3 linked regions of the Homo sapiens genome follow. The protein of the gene in region 2 purifies or fractionates together with the protein of the main gene of each other region. This does not show direct contact. Each region holds a gene or a part of one and is shown on either strand. Other genes may lie near its edges.

The links. Proteins that work in one complex are often made in the same cells at the same time.
Region 1: the proteins of ARPC1A (region 2) and ARPC5 fractionate together in Homo sapiens (co-fractionation; 10 studies listed by BioGRID and IntAct, with this or other methods). This does not show direct contact.
Region 3: the proteins of ARPC1A (region 2) and ARPC2 purify together in Homo sapiens (affinity purification with mass spectrometry; 10 studies listed by BioGRID and IntAct, with this or other methods). This does not show direct contact.

Annotation. Positions count from the first base shown.
Region 1 is NC_000001.11:183,619,511-183,626,234, forward strand, and holds the end of ARPC5 (actin-related protein 2/3 complex subunit 5), read right to left. Parts: 3' UTR 1,336-6,724; downstream 1-1,335. UniProt on the Homo sapiens protein: Component of the Arp2/3 complex, a multiprotein complex that mediates actin polymerization upon stimulation by nucleation-promoting factor (NPF).
Region 2 is NC_000007.14:99,356,250-99,364,535, reverse strand, and holds part of ARPC1A (actin-related protein 2/3 complex subunit 1A), read right to left. Parts: intron 6,197-8,286; coding exon 6,121-6,196; intron 4,992-6,120; coding exon 4,798-4,991; intron 994-4,797; coding exon 903-993; intron 1-902. UniProt on the Homo sapiens protein: Probably functions as a component of the Arp2/3 complex which is involved in regulation of actin polymerization and together with an activating nucleation-promoting factor (NPF) mediates the formation of branched actin networks.
Region 3 is NC_000002.12:218,233,738-218,242,023, reverse strand, and holds part of ARPC2 (actin-related protein 2/3 complex subunit 2), read right to left. Parts: intron 7,673-8,286; coding exon 7,627-7,672; intron 3,361-7,626; coding exon 3,174-3,360; intron 2,634-3,173; coding exon 2,540-2,633; intron 1-2,539. UniProt on the Homo sapiens protein: Actin-binding component of the Arp2/3 complex, a multiprotein complex that mediates actin polymerization upon stimulation by nucleation-promoting factor (NPF).

The DNA of each region.
Region 1 (6,724 bases), on a different chromosome or scaffold from region 2:
GGTGATAAAAGCAAGAATGGAGCAGACCTGCAGAGAAATGTAAGCATGAGTTTTCAGTGGCTGGTATATAAAAGTTAAGCAGAGCTTTATGCAGTATTAAACAATATTATTACAGCTCCCAGAAGCCCGGTTTATACTGATTTCATATGAACGGCACCCCTTACAGCACAACTGTGTGGCATGAATGGTGTCCCCTGGACTTGTGCTATGAGGCAGTCCTACTTTTAGTTGGGGATGGGGCTGTAGATAAAGGCCAGGGCCAAATAATGCAGATATTGTATATCATTTAGAGCAGGAATAAAATATGTGTTGTGATTCTACATGTCTAAAACCCATGGCAGACATCACTAATTCTCATGGTCCACCTACCTGTTGAACTCCAACATGTCCTACTCAATACAGCACCCCAGAGAGTCACTATCAATCAGCATATACTTTGTCTATGTACTTCCTGGCCTGACAACAGCTATAACATGAAACTCATAAGTAGCTGTATCTCAGCAGCAGATGGTTTCCCTCTCGTTAGAATAAACACTGGGTATTATATCAAAGTTAAGGAAATCTTTTGCTTTTGATCTGAGGACCCAGAAAATTTGGAACCAGTCTTCAAACTTAGTGGTAACATGGTATCACTTAATTAACTTGATTTAATACTAATAATGAACAGGATTCTGGAATGTTCACTAATTGTGTGAATTCTGAAATCGTGTTGTTTCCTCGGCTTGGTATTCCCTTCCTGTTTTCTATTTGCCAAACTCTTAGATAGCCTTCAAGGCCCATTGAAATGCTCCCATTTTCACACCTTTTCCTTGACATTCTCTCTTGGAGAAGTAATTGCTCCCCATCTGTTATTGTACATGAATTTACTCTCTTCTCTATTATAGCTTGTTTACTATTGAATTTTATTCATTGCTTGTGTATCTTACCTAGAATCTAGATCCCACAGGATAAGGATTGTATTTTAAATATTTTAAGCAGCCCTTAGCATGTAAATACTTGCCTGAATGACAGTGAAACTGTGCTTTCACGTGCGAAATACTTTGGGTAGTTTGTCTTAAGAAAACACCCTCAAGTCCTGAGAAAACCAACCAAGTCAATATATTAGGATAAGACTTCCATATGGGGACCAACTAATCTCTTCTAGTTTACATTTGAAGCAGCAATTGTTGAAAAGAAAAATATGAATATTTTAAAATAAAAAAACTAAAATTTAAAATCATAAAAACATCCAAGAACACTTCATGAAATTTCTATTTTTAAATTTTGGAGCCAGGAAAATCTAAGTATGACTTGAACTCTAAATGCCATAAGAAAAGATTAATAAACTCAATTAGATAAAAATAAAAATAACCTTTTTATTTATAGTAAAAGCTATTATAAAGCGAAACTCAAAATGCAAGAAATATTTGACATTCCTGTTGAAAAGAGCTCCTACAAATCAGTAAGAAAAAGACCATCAAAAGGGCAAAGAAAATATAGAAATACAAAAATATAGAAAAGAAAATACAACTGGCTATTAGGCATGTGAAAAGATGTGCAATCTCATTTACATTAAGAGAAATGCAAATATATGATACCATTTTTAAAACATCAGATTTGAAAAGATTAAAAAATGTTTTATGACAAACACATAGAATAGGTAAAGGGGTGGGAAAACATGCATTCTTCTACACGGCTGGAGAAAGTATAATTGATAAAACCTTTAAGAAAGGCAATTTAGCAATATCTCCCTTAAATGCCCTCCAACTGACCTTAACTTTCACTTTTAGGAATTGATCTACAAATAGGCTTGAACATATGTAAAATGACTTGTGTATAATGCTATTCACTGTAGCACTGTTTGTAACTGCAAAAGATCAGAAACCACCTAAATCAATAGGGAAATGGTTAAGTAAATTATGGTACATTTATTTATATAATAGAATTATTATGCAGTCATAAAAATAAAATTGTTATCGGAAAGTGGTCCCAATCCAGACCCCAAGTGAGCGTTCTTGGATCTCACACAAGAAAGAATTCAAGGCCAGTCTGTAAAGTTAAAGCAAGTTTATTAAGAAAGTAAAGGAATAAAGAATGGCTACTCCATAGGCAGAGCAGCCCCGAGGGCTGCTGGTTGCCCATTTTAACGGTTATTTCTTGATGATATGCTAAACAAGGGGTGTATTATTCATGCCTCCCCTTTTTAGACCATATAGGATAACTTCCTGATGTTGCCATGGCATTTGTAAACTGTCATGGTGCCGGTGGGAGCGTAGCGGTGAGGATGGCCAGAGGCAGAGGTCACTTTCATTGCCATCTTGGATTTGGTGGGTTTTGGCCAGCTTCTTTACTGCAAACTGTTTTATCAGCAAGGTCTTTATGACCGGTATCTTGTGTTGACCTCCTATCTCATCCTGTGACTTAGAATGCCTTAACCATCTGGGAATGCAGCCCAGTAGGTCTCAGCCTTATTTTACCCAGCTTCTATTCAAGAAGGAATTGCTCTGGTTCAAATGCCTCTGAAGGGAATAAGGAAGTTCTTTATGTATTGATAGGAAATTACCACCAAAATATACTGTTAATGAAAAAAGCAAGGAACAGAACACTATATATAGTATGTTAGTATTTATGTACACAAAGGGGTAAAATCTTATATAGGTATTTGCCTGTAAATGCATACACTGTATCTGGAAGGATGCCTAAGAATTAAGTGACAATAGTTGGTTGTCAAAAGAGGAACTAGGGTGGAATGGAAAATTACCACAGTACATATTTCTTACCTTTTGAATATTGAACAATATGAACAAATTATTTGAAAACGAATAAAAACTAAAATGAATAAAATACAGAACCATTGGCTAATGAATACACTGACCTTTAACTTAGCAAATTGAAGAAAATCTTAGTTGCCCTGGCATCTTGATTCAATTTTTGGAGAAACAAAAGGAAGTATGATGTTATTCAGAGGCATTGGCCATTTAAGTTATTCATTACCCTAAGGGTTGACAGAATTAGAAAAATCTACGTATAAAGTCAAGGACGGTGATATAAATTCATGGATATAATTTAATGGTTATCTTTAAGGAAAACAAGGGGTATTGGGTCACATCTCTGCTCTTAGAAGGTGATGCCACAGAATAATGAACAGATCATATAAACTCCCATAGTGCCACTGTTAGCCAGATATGAGCTGGAATTCTGTTCCTCAGCCACTTTCTCTGGTGACTTCTGGCAAAGCTAAACACTATAGGGGCTGCACGTGGTACTCATGGTGGCTCTGATTTCCACCTAAGGCTGATAAATTCCCTTCTTAACTGTCCACATTGAAGTGAATTGAAATTCTTTGTGACTAAACTTGATTGGCTCTAGGGTATTTGAACCCAAGAATTATTTTACTCTTTGTATAGTTCTCAATTTGTACTTCTGATGTGTTGCCCTATTCAGGTACCCTAAGAACCTGTGTATAAATTAAGGATTTCTTAGGTGACTTGGCTCGTTCAATGTTATGCAACCAAGAGATATTTGTTGAACATCAACTATGCCAAGTGAATGTGGGGATGAGTAAGAGCCAGCTACTATGACTTCAGGGGGCCCATACAGTCTAGCAGCAAGGTCAAGAGGGTGTGTCTTGCAGAGCAGGAGCTAACTGCTAGGCTGGAAAATACGGGAGTTTTAGAATGCTTTGGAATTCAGGTGGGTCATACACTACTCAATTTGTGTTTCATGTGGTGTGGATTCTAGGGAACTGTTTCAGAGAGAAATAAGAGATGTAAACATAGATTATTTATGTTGATTACTCTTACACACTCAAGTAACAGAAATGATAAAGGAAAATAGAAATGTTAAAGTGAATGCTGTGTCCCATGTTGCTTGTGGTTGGATCATCAATGTGGTGAAGTAGCACCACCTTGAGGCAGATGACATGCTGTACCTCTGTGGGCTTCCCGGGCCTCCTCCATATCTGGAATCATACAAGAGGCACCTGCACAGAACGTTTTCACATTGGGGTTTTCACATATTGTACTAGTGACATTGGGGTGAGGGGGAGAGGGAGTGGGGCAGAGGTCCCGCGGCAGGAATATGGACAGAAGCAGCCTTGTTTAAGGGCACTTGGTTCTACAGAGGCCGTTGGTCTGTTCCTTAATTGGGTGTGTTTTTCAATTATTTTGGTGCTTTTAACATATTTTGTCTGTAAGGGGATGTTAGTTGTAAATCTAAAGGAAAAATTGTGTATCTAAAAATTAATCAATCTGGCTGGGCGCGGTGGTCACGCCTGTAATCCCAGTGCTTTGGGAGGCGGAGGAGGGTGGATCACCTGAGGTCAGGAGTTCAAGACCAGCCTGGGCAACATGGTGAAACCCCATCTCTCCTAAAAATACAAAAATTAGCTGGGCACGGTGATGCGTGCCTGTAATCCGAGCTACTCAGGAGGCTGAGGCAGGAGAATCGCTTGAGCCTGGGAGGTGGAGGCTGCAGTGAGCCGAGATTGTGCCATTGCACTCCAGCCTGAGCAACAGAGCAAGACTCCATCTCAAAAAAAAAAAATTAATTAATTAATTTTCTTTTTTACCTTTATACATGGGGTTAAACTAAGTGATCATCAATGTCTATTTCAGCTAATAAAACATTATGATTTCCTATAATTTTACTTTCTTGAATCTATCACGGAGATAGTTTCTGATCCTGTTAATAATTTGCACCATCTAGAATTCTTATGTTAAAAACATTAAAACTGCAGCTGGGCGCGGTGGCTCACGCATGTAATCCCAGCACTTTGGGAGGCCGAGGTGGGCGGATCACGAGGTCAGGAGATCGAGACCATCCTGGCTAACACGGTGAATGAAACCCCGTCTCTACTAAAAATACAAAAAATTAGCCGGGCGTGGTGGCGGGCGCCTGTAGTCCCAGCTACTTGGGAGGCTGAGGCAGGAGAATGGCGTGAACCCAGGAGGCAGAGCTTGCAGTGAGCCGAGATCGCGCCACTGCACTCCCGCCTGGGCCACAGAGCGAGACTCTGTCTCAAAAAAAACAAAACAAAACAAAACAAAACAAAACAAAACAAAAAACATTAAAACTGCAAGAACAGTGACTATTAAACCCACTTTTAACTTTCTCTTTCTACTCTGTTCATTTCACTTGGACCGTTTGTCCTTTCTGCCCCTCCAAAGGATTAGTTCAAATTAATGTCTCACTTTAAATACTCTGATCCACCCTGATTTTGTTGTTCTCCCAACATTGACTAACTGCATTTACAGTCAAATGCTAAATTGTATGACGTTAATTCTCTTTTTTTTTGTATGACATAATTTTCAGGTGCTTAACCTTACTTCCCAATTAGGCTGAGAGCAAACTGGTGAACAAGATTCAGACCTTATTCTTCTGTTATGTCCTCATGATCCTGGGATCCACAGGAAATGCTTTAAAAAGAATTCGGTTAATTTGTACCATCTACACATTGATTTCACCCATGTTCATGTCCTTAAAATATCATCATACTTGTCATCAAGTATGACTGTTACCGAAATGGTGCTGTTACCCAATGACCAAGAAGGGGTATGTTTTCCATTTCTTCCCTTTTGTAAAATGCCAAAAAAGAAACCAAATAGTAAAAGCACTGAGATTAAAGGAGGAGAATGGGAGGTAAACAACTACTTTTGTGCTAAAAGTGTCCTATGGCATTTATATATATTTTTTCCGCAATTAATCCTATTCCCAACTCTTCACCAAGGATAGTACTGTGTCATGGTTACTATACCCTGGGCTGACATTTAGTCAGGAGGCAACAGTTGAACCAGTTGTTTCCAGCTAGTATCCATTTTGACTCGGTCTCTATATTATACTACTTGTTAAATATTTTTAGTATCTCCCCTCAGTAAAGCTGATAGACTGGCAGATTCTAAATACACCCACCCATTCTTGTGAACAAATATGAACTCCAGAATTTTTCCAAACGCTTCAGTTATGAAAGTGATGTTAAGAAGGATTTTATGAAAAAGCATTCAGTATCATTTGATTTTAAAGTTTGTAATTGGTTATGCTATACCTACTTGACTACCTCTAATACCTATTGGCTAAGGCACAGTGGCATGTGCCTGTAGTTCCACCTTTTCGGGAGGCTGAGGCAGGACTGCTTGAAGCCAGGAGTTTGAGGCCTCAGTGCACTATGATCACACCTGTGAACAGCCACTGCACTCCAGCCTGGGCAGCATAGCAAGTCCCCATCTCTAAGTAATATTTAAGAATAATACCTATTGCTTAGCTTATCTTCACCCATAGGACCCTGAATTGCCTGGAAGTGTTTTAAAGTGGGAATCTAGTCAGGTGAAGATCGAAAGCAAACAGAAGTCGCTGTGAGTAGGTAAGTACAAGAAATAGATTTGAGGTGAAAGAAAGAGAATTTTGGAGGCTGGGAGTGAATGACTGCAGCTGCTAAGCTACTTTGCACTTTCTAGTCTAGGTCTTTGGGCAGTGATACTACATATAGGTATTCAGCTGCCATCCAGAAGGCTATGGAATCACTCCAAAGGCTTCAGTAGTGCTCTGACATCATTCATGACTCTCTTCTCTATCATCTTATATCTATATAGTCTTATAAAAACCCTACCAAACTGTTCTTGTTAAGAGTACAGTACTTGGTGGTAGAAGCAGAAAACCTTTCCTCTTAATTAACCATACATTCATAATTGTTAAAGTCAGAGAAAAATAAATTATTCAACACTGACATTTTATTTTCTGAAGTTTTATC
Region 2 (8,286 bases):
CTTGGGGAGGCTGAGGCGGGTGGATCACCTGAGGTTGGGAGTTCGAGACCAGCATGTCCAACGTGGAGAAACCCCATCTCTACTAAAAACACAAAATTAGCTGGGCGTGGTGGCACATGTCTGTAATCCCAGCTACTTGGGAGGCTGAGGCAGGAGAATCGCTTGAACCCCAGAGGCGGAGGTTGTGGTGAGCCGAGATTCTGCCATTGCACTCCAGCCTGGGCAACAAGAGCGAAACTCTGTCTCAAAAAAAAAAAAAAAAAAAAAGAGAGAGATCTCCAAGGCTGGCATGGTGGCTCACGCCTGTAATCCCACCACTTTGGGAGGCCAAGGTGGGCAGATCACATGAGGCCAGGAGTTCAAGACCAGCTTGGCCAACATGGTGAAACCCCGTCTGTACTAAAAATACAAAACATAGCCGGGTGTTGTAGTGTGCTCCTGTAATCCCAACTACTTGGGAGACTGAGGCAGGAGAATCGCTCCAACCCGGGAGGCGGAGGTTGCAGTGAGCCAATATTGCACCGCTGCACTGCAGCCTGGGTGACAGAACAAGACTCCATCTCAAAAAGAAAGAAAAAAAAATGAGAGATTTCCAGTTTAATGTCTTACATTAGGACATTAAACTGTATACTAGATTTAACATTTTGTTTCAAGAAATGAGAAACATTCTTCTCATAAGAGTTTTGTAAAAATATTCACGGAGCATGGTGGTGCATGCCTGCTGTCCCAGCAGCTTGGGAGGCTGAGGTGGGAGGGCTGCTGGAGGCAAGGAGTTGGTGGCTGCAGTGAGCCATGATTGTGCCACTTACTCCAACCTGGGTGACAGAGAAGGAGCCTATCTCTTAAAAAAAAAAAAAAAAGTTTTAACACAAACAAAATTTGTTCTGTTAGGTAGAAAATACCTTGAAATCCCAAATTGTCATGGCTCCATCGATGCCAGTAGTGCAAAATTTGCGACAATCTTGCTTGTCCACCTCATAAATAGAGACTTGACTGAAAAAAAGCAAAGCAAAAGAGATCGTAAGGTATGTAGTGGAAGTGAACACAAACATTCCTGACTAATAGTGTAAGGGCAGCTTAAGGAAATGAATTATCTTCTTCTTTATTTTTTAAATAGAGCTGGGATGCGGGTCTCATTATGTTGCCCAAGCTGGTCTTGAACTCCTGGGCTCAAGTGATCCTCCTGCCTCAGTCTCCCAAAATGCTGGGATTACAGGCATAAGCCACCACGCTCCACCAGGAAATGAATTATCTTTTAACTCCTGATTATGAACTTATCCATGAACATTAGGCTGCAACAATCTGGCTCAGAAAATACCCCAAAGCATATTATTACCAGATGTCCAGGAAAGACAAAACTGGCAAGGGGAGAAGTTAAGAACTTGCCTTGGTTAGCGTGACCTGGGGAAGCAGGAATGACCCAGCCCACACAGCACTCAAATGCTGGGAGCAGGTTGTGGGTAGGACCACAGCCATGGCGAAAACAGTATTTTTGTTTGTTTTTAAATAAACCAGAGGCATGATGAAGCATGACTGAATTCCATAGCTCCAAACAAAACCTCTCAAATCAGCCTCCAAGACAGCCAGTGCAGATAAGCCAACAGCCCTCCTTGAGTCTGAAGTGAATCATCATAAATGTTAGCAGCAGACACACCACTAGATTCCGACCAAGCTAAGCAGGGGAACAGATAAATGAAACAACTTGTCTTAGCCTAATTATCTGGAAGCTTTCAAGACAATCATCCATTGCTCAGACAATATTTTTCTTTCTCCTTTGAGATGTCTAGAACTTACCCGCCTCTTCCCCGACGCTGGGAAGGGGATGGCAAACTATGGCACACACTGCCTATGCCCGTACAGCCTGTGAGCTTAAATAAAAAAAAAAAACAACAAAGGCCAGGTGCAGTGGCTCACGCCTGTAATCCCAGCACTCTGGGAGGCCGAGGTGGGCAGATCACGAGGTCAGGAGATCGAGACCATCCTGACTAACACAGTGAAACTCTGTCTCTACTAAAAGATACAAAAAAAAAAAAAAAATTAGCCAGGCATGGTGGCGGGCGCCTGTAGTCCCAGCTACTTGGGAGGCTGAGGCAGGAGAAGGGCGTGAACCCAGGAGGCAGAGCTTGCAGTAAGCCAAGATCGTGCCACTGCACTCCAGCCTGGGTGACAGAGACTCCATCTCAAAAAAAAAAAAAAAAAGGGGGGCGGGGTTTTACATTTTTATTTTATTTATTTATTTATTGAGATGGAGTCTCACTCTGTCACTCAGGCTGGAGTGCAGTGGTGCGATCTCGGCTCACTGCAACCTCTACCTCCCAGGTTCAAGCGATTCTCCTGCCTCAGACTCCCGAGTAGCTGGGATTACAAGCACCTGCCACCAGGCTGGCGAATTTTTGTATTTTTAATAGAGACGGGGTTTTGCCATGTTGGTCAGGCTGGTCTTGACCACCTGACCTCAAGTGATCCGCCCACCCCAGCCTCCCAAAGTGCTGGGATTACAGGCGTGAGCCTCTGCACCTGACCCGGCTTTTACGTTTTTAAATAGCTGGAAAAAAATTAAAAGGAGACTATTATTTCATGAAGTGAAAATTACATGAAATTCAAATTTGAGTGTCCATAAAGTTTGACGGGAACACAGCCACCTCATCTGTTTACATCATCTGTGCCTGCTTTCCTGCCACAACCAGAGTTCAGTAGTTGCAACAGAGACCTATGGCCTCTAGGAGTCTAAAATATTTACTATCTGGTCCTTTACAGAAAAAGTTAGCTGACACAGTTCTAGTGCAAAGAGCACCTAATTTCTGCAAATAAAAGTAGACTAATCAGCAAGGGTTTGTTCTTTTCATTTTTCATCTAGAAGTGTCAGAGAGGCAATGAGAGCTTTTTCTTTCCTTAACACTTGGTCTGTATAGAAACGTAAGAGAAACTCACAAGAAGTAACTCGGAGCCATTCAAGACAGAGAAACCTAAAGAATGGAGAAAAGGTGAGTTTTGCTATAGAAGGAGAAACCTGAAGAATGTGGAGAAAAGGTAAGTTTTGCTATGCCTTCAGGTTCTTTTTTTTTTTTTTTTTTGAGATAGGATCTCACAATGTAGCCCAGGCTGAAGTACAGTGGCACAATCACAGCTCACTCCTCCCAAGTAGCTGGGACTACAGGTGCGTGCCAACACAGCCAGCTAACTTAAAAATTTTTTTGTAGAGATGGGGTCTTGCTGTGTTGCCCAGGATGGTATTGAACTGCTGGCCTCAAGTGATCCTCCTGCCTTGGCTTCCCAAAACGCTAGCATTACAGGTGTGAGACATGGTGCCAGGTCTCTGGTTCTCATTTTTCAATACAGCATTTGCAGCCTATTTTATATACAGCTGCCCCTTCTCCGCTGAAGATGAAGCACAACCTGCATTTCATTGTAATTCTCTCAAACAGGAAGTCTAGAGGTTTCCATTACTTCTCCCACCATCAATACCACAATAAGATTCTAAACATAAAAGGCTTCTCAGTAAGGGAAAATCCCATGGGACCCAACTCTGAACACAGTAATTTAGAATATCAAGCATATATTTCTCCTCCAGGTGCCTTTTTTTTTTTTTTTTTTTGAGACGGAGTCTCACTCTGTCACCCAGGCGGGAGTGCAGTAGCTCAATCTTGGCTCACTGCAACCTCCACCTGCCCGGTTCAAGCAATTCTCCTGCCTCAGCCTGCCGAGTAGCTGGGATTACAGGTGTGTACCACCATGCCAAGCTAATTTTTGTATTTTTTAGTAGAGATGGGGTTTTGCCATGTTGGCAAGGCTGGTCTCGAACTCCTGACCTCAAGTGATCTGCCTGCCTCAGCCTCCCAAAGTGCTGGGATTAAAGGTGTAAGCCATCATGCCCAGCCTCTCCTCTAGACCTTAAAAATCAAACTTTCAGGCCAGGCACGGTAGCTTACGCCTGTAATTCCAGCAATTTGGGAGGCTGAGGTGGTTGGATCACCTGAGGTCAGGAGTTTGAAACCAGGATGGCCAACAGGGTGAAACTCCGTCTCTACTAAAAATACAAAAAATTAGCCAGGTGTGGTGGCACACGCCTGTAATCCCAGCTTCTTGGGAAGCTGAGGCAGGAGAATTGCTTGAACCCGGGAGGCAGAGGTTGCAGTGAGCCGAGATTGTGGCATTGCACTCCAGCCTGGGCAACAGAGTGAGACTCTGTCTCAAAAAAAAAAAAAAAAATTAAACTTTCTGGACAAAACACAATTCTGTTGTCTTACATAATTACATATACCTGATGAAAACCCAGTCGAGACACTCCTCAGCTTTGTCATCATGATGATAAGAAATTCTGTTCCTTTAATTAAATAATCTTCTTATTTGTATCCATTACTTGAAACGACAGCTACAGTTACCTTTTCCAACAGGCTGTAACTTCGCTTTCTGTTATGTGTGCACTACTGTGGGAACGCAGCATTCAGGAATGTCTCCTTTTGTTCTCGAGTAGCTGAGAAAGGGTACCCTAGGAAGCAGCTGCCCTGAGGCCCCACCACCTCAGATTGCAACAAGGTCTGCACTGCTCCTGCTGGCTGCTGCCTTGTAATCTGCACCTTGAAGGACAGAATGACCAGGTGGTGGCGACTCCCTCCCTACCACGAGCTGGAAATGAGAGCCTGGCGGTCGGGAAGATACAGACTTCTTGCTGCACTTGTCCCTGAAAGAATGTCTGGGCCTGAGGGGCATAGAGCTTTTGTAGGAACCCAGTAAGGAAACAGCGAGGGGCAGGAAGGCACCTTGTCACCTGACCACCTCTCTACAGACGGCACCTACGTGATGCTATTCTGGTGCAGCGTCTCCAAGGCCGTGTTGCGGTCCTCAGTTGTGGCTCTCTTGTCCATGTTGCGGAAGCGTTCCATGGCAGACATGTTGCGTTGGATGCTCTGTTTTGGAATATCTAACTTGGAGACGAAGGTCAGGCAGCCGCGGTCATCGTAGTTAAAGAGCATTGGGCAGCAGTCATGGCCCTGAAACAAGACTCAGTCAGTCCCTGGAGGATGCACTGCCCACCGCCCACCTCCTTGGCAGAGTGTTCACCACGACAGGCCTCTCTTACTCTTTTTTTTTTTTTTTTTTGAGACCGAGTCTTGCTCTGTTGCCCTGGCTAGAGTGCAGTGGCACAATCTCAGGTCACCACAACCTCTGCTTCCCGGGTTCAAGTAATTCTCCTGCCTCAGCCTCCCAAGTAGCTGGGATTACAGGCGTCTGCCACCATGCCTGGCTAATTTTTGTGTTTTTAGTAGAGACGGGGTTTCACCATGTTGGCCAGGCTGGTCTTGAACTCCTGACCTCAAGTGAACCACCCGCCTTGGCCTCCCAAAGTGCTGGGACTACAGGCGTGAGCCATCGTGCCCCACCCCCTCTTACTCTTAAAAGTGAGCGGCCGGGCACGGTGGCTCACACCTGTAATCCCAGCACTTTAGGAGGCCAAGGTGGGCGGATCACGAGGTCAGGAGATTGAGACCATCCTGGCTAACATGGTGAAACCCCATCTCTACTAAAAATAAAAAAAATTAGCCCGGCGAGGTGGCGGGCGCCTGTAGTCCCAGCTACTCAGGACGCTGAGGCAGGAGAATGGCGTGAACCCGGGAGGCGGAGCTTGCAGTGAGCCAAAATTGCGCCACTGCCCTCCAGCCTGGGCGACAGAGCAAGACAGTCTCCAAAAAAAAAGTGACCTCTGAGGCCGGGCACGGTGGCTCATGCCCGCACTTTGGGAGGCCAAGGTGGGTGGATCACCTGAGGATGGGAGTTCGAGACCGGCCTGACCAACATGGAGAAACCCCGTCTCTTCTAAAAATACAAAATTAGCCAGGTATGGTGGCGCATGCCTATATTCCCAGTTCCTCGAGAGGCTGAGGCGGGAGAATCGCTTGAACCCGGGAGGCAGAGGTTGCGGTGAGTCAAGATCACCCATTGCACTCCAGCCTGGGCAACAAGAGCAAAACTCCATCTCAAAAAAAAAAAAAAAAAAAAAAGTGAGCTCTGTTTCTTCTAAAAAACTGTTCTGCTTTGTGCTAGGGTGACAGAGCACACATTGTTCCCTGTCTGAGCATCACATACAGTGCACCCCGAGGGAGAATGAAGAAAAATACTCACAGCAGCCACGACGCTGTTCTCTGAGACAAATGACACACTTAGGAGCGGCAGGAACTCTGTCTTCAGAGTCGAGACCCTGAACACAAGAACATGTGTTATCCCAAGATGCAACAGACTATTAGCTTCTTTACAGACACAGATGATCACAAAGGACCCATTCTCACAGGGGCTTCTGCAGTATCAATGGGCACTTATGTTGAAAAGGAGCCCCTGACCTCAACTTGCAGGCCTCTCAAGACAGGGGCAGCCCTGGGTTCCGGCTCTGCCTCCTTCTGAGGCCCTGCCCACTGACGACAAACTGGTTCCCAAAGCCCAGTCTTTGCATCACGCCCTTCCACCCCCAGCACAGCTCTAAAGGGATCACCCCCATGATCCCACGGTCCACTTTCCCGGGCCACTTCCGCCTAAAGTGGCTTCTCCCTGCTCTTAGCTCCTAGAGCTCTTCCTGTTACTATGACTTGGCAGCAGACACCTGTGCTAGGACCTTCTCCTTGCCTGTGCTCACCGGAGCTCCGAGAGGGCTGTGACCACACAGATCTGTGCTGACGGCCAGGCACTGTGTTAGGAGCTAGAGCTACCAAGATGAACCAAACGGTCTTAGCCAGGAGCTCACACTCGAATGGGCCATGTGTGTGTATGTGTGCCTGCAGGGACATGTGTGTGCATGTAGTTATTTGCTCTTGAATGTGGCAAAGAGATTACACAGATATGGCAGGCAGACACACTGGCTGATGAGTTAGGAGCACCTCACTTCATGCAAGAAACGATGCATTCAAAAGCTGACTGTGGCTGGGCATGGTGGCTCACACCTGTAATCTCAGCACTTTGAGGGGCTGAGGTGGAAGGATTGCTGGAGGCAGGAGTTTGAGATCAGCCTGGACAACATAGTGAGACCCAGTCTCTACGAAAAATTAAAAAAAAAAAAAAATTAGCCTAGAGTGGTGGTGCACGTCTGTGGCTCCAGCTGCTTGAGAGGCTGAGGTGGGAGGAGAACTTGAGCTCAGGAGTTCCAGCCTGGGCGACAGAGAGTGTCTCTCTAAATTAAAAAATAAAAAAAAGCTAACTGTATATGTCTCAGGACACCCTTCATAAAGTTGGCATTGAATTGAAGAACTAATGTGTCATCTTAAGCCCTTAGTGCGGTATACCTGACTTTTACTACATGAGATATTTATGTTGGAGGAGTGGAAAGGTGGAGCATGTAATCTGACTTGCAGGACTGGAAAAGGGAAAGAAGTCAGTACGAGGGTAGACAGGGACTTGTAATAAGTGTATGCTAAGAACTTACTGTGTCACAATAAACCATATAAAAATCAAGTAACACTGGCATCAAAATACAAAAGTATTATCAAGTATTAAAAGGCAAATTACCAAATGTATATAAAAATGTATAAAATAATCTTATTTCTGTTAAAAATGAAAAGATATATAAGTGCCTGTTTATGTAGGGAAATCTTCTGAAAGACTACATTTTATAATGGAAGGGACAATCTTTCTTTTTTTCTTTCTTTTTTTTGAGATGGAGTCTCGCTCTGTCGCCCAGCCTAGAGTGCAGTGGCGCAATCTCGGCTCACTGCAAGCTTTGCCTCCCAGGTTCACGCCATTCTCCTGCCTCAGCCTCCCGAGTAGCTGGGACTACAAGCGCCCGCCACCACGCCTGGCTAATTTTTGTATTTTTTGTAGAGACAGGGTTTCACCGTGTTAGCCAGGATGGTCTCGATCTCCTGACCTTGTGATCCGCCCGCCTCGGCCTCCCAAAGTGCTGGGATTACAGGTGTGAGCCACTGTGCCCAGTCTTTTTTTTTTTTTTGAGACAGAGTCTTCCTCTTGTTGCCCAGGCTGGAGTGCAGTGGTGCGATCTTGGCTCATTGCAACCTCTGCCTGCTGGGTTCAAGCAATTCTCCTGCCTCAGCCTCCTGAGTAGCTGGGATTACAGGTGCATGCCACCACACCTGGCTAATTTTTATACTTTTAGTAGAGGCGGGGTTTCTCCATGTTGGCCATGCTGGTCTCGAACTCCTTACCTGAGGTGATCCACCCGCCTCGGCCTCCCAAAGTGCTGGGATTACAGGCGTGAGCCACTGCACCCGGCCTGAGGGGATAATCTTTAAAAAAATATGTAAAACTAGCTAAAAAATGCACATTTAATCCTGTTAGGAAAAACAT
Region 3 (8,286 bases), on a different chromosome or scaffold from region 2:
TCTCAGGGTACAACTTTCTGTGCCAGGTGTCCCTCATTCTTTTTCCGAGAAATTTACAATTCCAGGCCTAGGAAAAAGTTCTATTTATTTTTTGGGAAAATCCAGCAAAAGTCCAGTTTCCGATTGTCATTTCCAACAAATTACCTAAGCCTCTGAATTTGGAAAGGGTGGCAGGGCAGATGACTTCCTGAGTCTAGCTAGCACTGCACCAGGCCAGTTACTATCCAGAGATCCTGTTAGTGCCAAAATGCAAAAGAGGCTTTGTCTTTCCTTTTAGGTAAGTGCCCTACCACAGGTACCCTGAAGGAGGCATTTAAATCATATGCCAAAAAAGAATACACAAAATTCTCCTAAGGAACAAATCTCCGGTACACTCTCCAAGATAAGATCTGTTTAAAGTATAAAAATAAGTTGTTTCCTGGAATAAAATGGAATAAGATTGGTAAAAAACCAGCCAAATCTAAATATATACTTCAGAGCTTTTAAAATTAGTTTTGTTACTCTGGATTTAGCCCAATTTCTGAGCTACTGCATTTAATTCCCCTGTCAATTCTGCATAAAAACACATGAAATGCCTCTCTAGAGGCTTACTTTTAGGACCCAAGAGATACATGTATATTTATATATTCCTTCATCAAGTTCAGCACTAGCAAATGCTGAAGTGTCAATATTCCAATTTTTCTGTATAGTGACTCCCAAACTAGTTTCTGATTAATTAGCCAAAATACAAAAGCCACTAGGGATGGAGCAGTTGAGAATATCACTTTTGAAGATTTTCCTAGCCACTTAGAAGGCTATGCAAAGTATCTTTACTGTTAAGCACAGCTGTCTTTCAACTCTATTTGGCAAAAGAGATTCTGCTTCAGAATTTAAAAATCTTTACCACCCTGCCAAGGAACAGAATGAAGGTAGTAACGTTTTCAAAAAATTTTACCATTGTACTAGATTTTGAATGCTGAGCCATCTCAGAAGAAACCAGCCTGAATGTCACTTGACCAATGAACTCTCATGTCCATCCTAGAGGCAGCAACTAACTGGCCAGCAGACTGGTACACAATGACCTGAATGCAACTACACCAAAAATCCAATTACAAAATGCCCTGCTAACTCTCAGGACTCTCTTTTTTTTTGAGTCGGAGTTTCGCTCTTTTTGCCCAGGCTGGAGTGCAATGGTGCAATCTTGGCTCACTGCAACCTCTGCCTCCCAGGTTCAAGAGATTCTCCTGCCTCAGCCTCCCAAGTGGCTGGGATTACAGGTGCCTGCCACCACACCCGGCTAATTTTTTGTATTTTTTTAGTAGAGACGGGGTTTCACCATGTTGGCCAGGATGGTCTTGACCTCTTGACCTCGTGATCCGCCCACCTCGGCCTCCCACAGTGCTGGGATTACAGGCGTCAGCCACCGCGCCTGGCCTCTCATGACTCTTCTTAAGATGAGCTTCTTGTGAGGGAAGTACTCTATGGTGACCCATCCAAACTCAGGCTCAGTCTGTCAGTTCAACAACTCTACCTGTTCATGCGTTATCTACTACCAAATAATTGGCTATACAGTCCATTCTGAAAAGACCTTAGGACCAAACCAAGAGCAGCCACCTTACTAGAAATCTGAGGAAACACAAGAGGTTAGGGTTAGGAAACCTGACAAAGTTTTAGGTCAAAGACCCCACAGTAGGAAGGATGCATAACATTCATTCATAGTTAGTATGTTTAATTCTCAACTTACCCTTTAGTTCTGTCCTGCAAAACTAAACCACTGAGAAAAAAAATATCAGGCTGGGCGCGGTGGCTCATGCCTGCAATCCCAGCACTTTGGGAGGCTGAGGCGGGCGGATCATGAGGTCAGGAGATTGAGACCATCCTGGCCAACACGGTGAAACCCCATCTCTACTAAAAGTACAAAAATTAGCTGGGCGTGGTGGCGCGTGCCTGTAATCCCAGCTACTTGGGAGGCTGAGGCAGGAAAATTGCTTGAACCCAGGAAGCGGAGGTTGCAGTGAGCTGAGTTCGTGCCACTACACTCCAGCCTGGCGACAGAGCAAGACTCCACCTCAAAACAACAGCAGCAGCAACAAAAAATATTCACTGAGTTTTGTGGGAGTTGTCTATTAAATCTTCAACAAATTCTAACGTCAAGGCTGGGCATGGTGGCTCATGCCTGTAATACCAGCACTTTGGGAGGCCGAGATGGGCATCACCTGAGGTCGGCAGTTTGAGACCAGCCTGACCAACATGGAGAAACCCCGTCTCTACTAAAAATACAAAATTAGCTGGGTGTGGTGGTGCATGCCTACAATCCCAGCTACTCAGGAGGTTGAGGCAGGAGAATTGCTTGAACCTGGGAGGCGGAGGTTGCAGTGAGCCGAGATCACTCCATTGCACTCCAGCCTGGGCAACAAGAGAGAAACTCCGTCTCGAAAAAAAAAAAAAAAATTCTAACATCAGTAGAGTTGCTAGATCTCTTTCCTACGCTCATGGTATGTTTGGGTGCAAAGGTATAAGTCGCCATGCATGGGTTTCCCCCAAGATGTCTGCTCCATACCTGCATGAACACCTTTCCAATGACCACATCGTCGTCATCCTTAAACACTGTGCTGAAGACTACTGTGACTCTGTCCTTTTTAGACTCAACATACCTGAGAGGAACAAAATCCATGAGGATAAGTACAGAATCAGAATGGGGTTTTGTCAATAACTTGATCTACAAGTACATCAGAAGGCTAAAGTCATAAATCTCTTAAATCATAATATAAAGGTGTGCCAAATGAGATGATATTTATGGTCAACAAAGTCAGTGCACAAAATGAATGCCCTAAGAGAGGCAGCAGATGGAAATTATCAGAAGTAGATTTTATTGACTTGTAAATATAACATGGACCTATGGTCACCCTGCCTGCTGATTATCCAGGCTATACTCTTAAACATGACTCAGAACAGTGGTGCCTTAAAGGAAAGCACTGGATTCTCTTTCCACCATCTGTCAGCTCTCAGTATCTGGAGAGTAGGAGGAGTGGCTGATTTCTGCCCTATCATCTACTTCCTGGCTTAAGACATTTTATGAGAAAAACATTTTCACGCAATACAGCTGAAAGTTTGACCAAGCCATATTTCTTTCAGTAAGTGCCATGGTGGTGTAGCAGCCATATCCAGGCTTCAGGACCAAATTCTATACTCACATGGTCTCATCATCCCTATAATGGATAACTGCCCTGTTCTCTCCTTCCTTGCCCTCTTCTTGGAATTGGAAGTATTTTTCAAAGACAGAGGCAAAACAATTTCGCTTCAACATGCCAGCTTGATGCACAATGGAATCCTTGGATGCCGGAAGATTTTCAAGGTCATATAGCAAAGAGACATTGTATCCTGGAGGGAAAGAAAAAACAAGAAACAAAAAACAACCCAGCAGTTACATTTAAAAAAAAAAAAAAAAAAAAAAGCAGCATACTATCTATACCAAGTAAACAGAGACTAGAGGCAACTAAAAAAATCTTTTTTCAGGTTCTATTGACATTTTGTCTCATTATCTGTACTTTTAACCTGGGTAGAATATAGTCTATTTCCATCTATCTCACAGGGCAAAATGAGGTGAAATAAAATCTTAATTTTTATAAGATTCTTGTAAATATATATAATTAATGTTAATCAAAAATTTGAATCAGTATCAAAGATGACTAATTACAAATATGTAATGGGAGAAAGTCAGAACCTGGGAACTCTGATTGGAAATGTACCCTTCTAGACACAGTTGTAAAGGAGCCACATATATTTCTCTGATAGTTTAATGTGCCAAGTATCAGTATGGCCAGCAAATGGGTAGCTTTGTGATAATAAGATAAACCCTTCTACGTGCCACTGCAAACTCTTTATGAGGTGGCAGGGTAGAAAAACCAACTACCTGTTCATACATATACCTCCCCAATAGCTTTTATTGGTATATATTGTACAATTTTTAAAACATTTTACTTCATTTGATCTCCATAACCACCTTTGAAGTCTGCAGGCTAGATAAGGTTACTGTTTTGCAGAGGGAAAAGGAGATTCAAAGAAGTGACGTGACTTGCCAAATGCAGCATGACACATAAGTGTAGGGCACTCTATTTTGAGTCGAACAGAACTGGGTCCAAATCCTAGTCTTGTCATTTTGTGACCTTAAAAAAACTGCTGGGTGTGGTGGCTCACACCTGTAATCCCAGCATTTTGGGAGGCCAAGGTGGGCAGATCACCTGAGGTCAGGAGTTTTGAGAGCAGTCTGGCCAACATGGCAAAACCCTGTCTCTACTAAAATCACAAATATTAGCCAGGCATGGTGGCGGGCGCCTGTAATCCTAGCTACTTGGGAGGCTGAGGCAGGAGAATTGCTTGAACCCAGGAGGTGGAGGTTACAGCGAGCTGATATTGCACCACTGCACAACAGAGCGAGACTCCAGCTCCAAAAAAAAAAAACAAAAACAAAAAAAATTGCCTGACTTGTTAATTTCCTCATCTGTTAAAAAAAAAAAAAAATTGGTGGTGGGGGGCAGGTAGGGTGGTCTGGGCACAGTGGCTCAAGCCTGTATTCCCAGCACTTTGGGAGGCCAAGGTGGGTGGATCACCTGAGGTCAGGAGTTCGAGACCTGCCTGGCCAATATGGCAAAACCCCGTCTCTAATAAAAATACAAAATTAGCTGGGTGTGGTGGTACACGCCTGTGGTCCCAGGTACTCCGGAGGCTGAGGCAGGAGAATTGCTTGAACCCGGGAGGTGGAGGTTGTAATGAGCTGAGATCGCGCCACGGCACTCCAGCCTGAGCAACAAGAGTGAAATTCTGTCTCAAAAAAAAAGAAAAAAAGAAAAAGGAGCAGGGCAGGGGGTGCGGAGATAGGGGAGAATGTTGTGAGCATTAAAAGAATGTTCAATACTTAAAGTGTGTGGAACATGACAGGTCATCAATACGGGTGCAGAACATGGACTGAAACCATTGGATGACCTGCCTTTTTACAGCATGTCCACTATGAATTCCCAGAAGCCGGCTGGAACACTTGATTATAGAATCAAATGATTAATAAGTGTCAAACTGCCTAGAGATGTTTTTGCAAGAATATTTCTACATCACTGAGGATCATTTTATATTCTAGGCAACTGACGGGAATAACTTCACCAGAACTGTATGGCTTTCACACTTCTAAGTATCTGAAACCTCATTACTATTTCATTTTTTCCCAAAAGCATTCCTGAGATCTGTATTTTTTTTTTTTTGAGATGGAGTTTTACTCTTATTGCCCAGGCTGGAGTGCAATGGCATGATCTCGGCTCACCACAACATCCGCCTCCCAGGTTCAAGCGATTCTCCTGCCTCAGCCTCCTAGGCAGCTGGGATTACAGGCATGCGCCACCAGGCCTGGCTAATTTTGTACTTTTAGTAGAGACGGGGTTTCTCCATGTTGGTCATGCTGGTCTTGAACTCCTGAATGCAGGTGATCCGCCCGCCCTGGCCTCCGATAGTGCTGGGATTACAGGCATAAGCCACCGCGCCCGGCTGAGGTCTGTGTTTTTTGTTGAGCATGGGCTCTTCGGGAGGATGGGCTAAATCTTTGCTCTAGATAATGCTTAGCACATTTTATTTAATACTGGAGAGGCACTCCAGTATTAAATAATATCAATCATCATTCTATTTTGGGTACTTGAAAACCAAATAAGCACACAGATTACAAGGTTAGATTAAAAAAGAAAAGATTTAGAGCTGAGGTTTGCTAGTTTTAGGAAGCCAAATAAGAGCAAATAAAACTATAGCTAAGGTAAAGTCTGTCTTTAAGTAAGGCTTCTAACATGATGAACAGAATATACTGAGGATGAAGAGAAGTAAAAATCTAGTATAACTTGCTGAGTTTTCCAAACGTGCCTAGATAAACCCATTAAAAAAGAGGAGGAGAGACTCTACGGTCTTTTTTTTTTTTTTCTCGAGACTGAATCTTGCTCTGTCGCCTAGGCTAGAGGGCAGTGGCGCAATCTCAGCTCACTGCAACCTCTGCCTCCTGGGTTCAAGCGATTCTCGTGCTTCAGCCACCTGAGTACCTGGTATTACAGGTGGCTGCCACCATGCCTGGCTAATTTCTGTATTTTTTATAGAGACAGGTATCTCATTATGCTGCCCAGGCTGGTCCTGAACTTCTGAGCTCAAGCAATTCACTCACCTTGGCCTCCCCAAAGTGCTGGGATTACAGGTGTGAGCCACTGCACCTGGTTGAGACACTACTTTCACACACTTTTACATTTCACACTTCTATGAAGACAGGGTCTGCAATCTGGCAATGTCTATGATTTAGTGGGAGGTAGAAGGAGGCCCAGGGACAGAAACATAAACTTTCCATGTCAGGATGTTGGCTGTGACAAGCATGCCCAAGACTTTGGACATGATTTTTCTGTTCTAGATCTGTTTGTTTCTTTCTTTTAATACCTTGATTTTGCCAAAAGCCTACAGTGTTATCTTGGCTTTTATTTCTGTGACACATTCATCCCGCCAATTTGGAGATTAAAAAAAAAAAAGGTGCTGGGTATGGTGGCTCATGCCTGTGATCCCAACTCTCTGGGAGGCGGAGGCTGAGGTGGGTAGATTGCTCAAGGCTAGGAGTTTGAGACCTCCTTACTCTGTTTTGGCAGTATGGGCAGCAGACAGTGAGACTCTGTTTCTACAAAATATTAAAAAAATTAATTGGGTATGGTGGCATGTGCCTGTAGTTCCCAGCTACCGGAGAGGCTAAAGCGGGAGGATTGCTTGAGCCCAAGATTTGGAGGAGGCTGCAGTGAGCTATGACTGTACCACTGCATTCCAGCCTGGGCAACAGAATGAGACTGTCTGAAAAAATAGGTGAGGTGATGAAATAAGCTAGCACAAGTAACTGCTGTTAAGAGTGACAGAGAACTTCCTTCTTAGAAGACTTTTCTAATCAAGGTACCAAAGTTGTAATAGTTGAGTAAAAAATATTATGTTCCAATGGTCTTACTACCTGGTTCTCACTTTGGGGTCCTGCTAAATGCCTCAGAATTTGAGACATGCCACTGAATCACAGGGTAAAAAGGCTGTTCAGTTTTTCCACTTTAAACCTCCTTTTTAAAGCAGTATAACATAGCTGTTCTATTCAAGGATGACACGGTGCCTTTCAATTCCTCTGGCCATGAATGTTGAGACAACCTATTAGAAGACTGGATTAAGAAAGGGTCTGATTTTTATTACTTGAAATCACAAGAATAGTGTGGTGAATATTCCTCTTCTTTCTCCAAATATGTAGTATGCAGAATTACTAAGGGCCGAGGGTGGGAATCAATGTTTGCTCATTCTTTTCAAAGCCATTTTAATCACCATGAACAAACAAATGTGGCCCTCTGGCTGAAAGATTAAGTAAGAGTCATGTGGCCCCATCAAGTAAATGTTAAAAATGTCACACATCAATTTTGTACCTCTACTGTGTTCCATATTGGACAAAGCAAAGCCCCTTAAAAGCTATTTTTATGGACGGAGTTGAAATTAGGAATGGGCTCATGCAGAAATATTTGTAATAATATTTAAACGAAATCCTTTGGGTAAAAAAAGCATAATATAAAAAGGACACCTCTCTTCCCATGTCATTCCATAGTTGCTCACATGACTACATACCTGATTCTGGATTTACCAAGAAACTCCCGTACACCCTCTTTAATAACTAGAAAATAAAAACAAAACAAAACCAAATACGTTAATCCAAAGGCCATGATAATTTCATTATTTTTAAAGTACTGCACTTGCCAAGCTCTTCCTAAGTTGGCATTCTTCCTAACTTTCATTTGGTGGATGGGAAAGTAGAGACAGAGGGGAAGTGGATTTAGTCACCAAACAAGTCACAAAACTGAGATGAGTATCTTTTTATGCCTGGGACAGAGTGCAATGGCGCGATCTCGGCTCACCACAACCTCCGCCTCCTGGGTTCAAGTGATTCTCCTGCCTGAGCCTCCCAAGTAGCTGGGATTATAGGCATGCGCCACCATGCCCGGCTAATTTTTTTTTGTATTTTTAGTTGAGATGGGGTTTCTCCATGTTGGTCAGGCTGATCTTGAACTACTGACCTTGGATGATCCACCCGCCTCGTCCTCCCAAAGTGCTGGGATTATAGGCATGAGCCACTATGCCTGGCCGAGAATCTTTAATCAAAGCTCATCCTTTTTTAGGACTTGACTACACCCTTAATATGTTCTCTGTTCTCCTCCAGATCCTACATTGTACTTAATCATGTTTTGTTTTCAAGAGAGCAAAAGGATGCCAAATTCCAAGTGAGAGAAC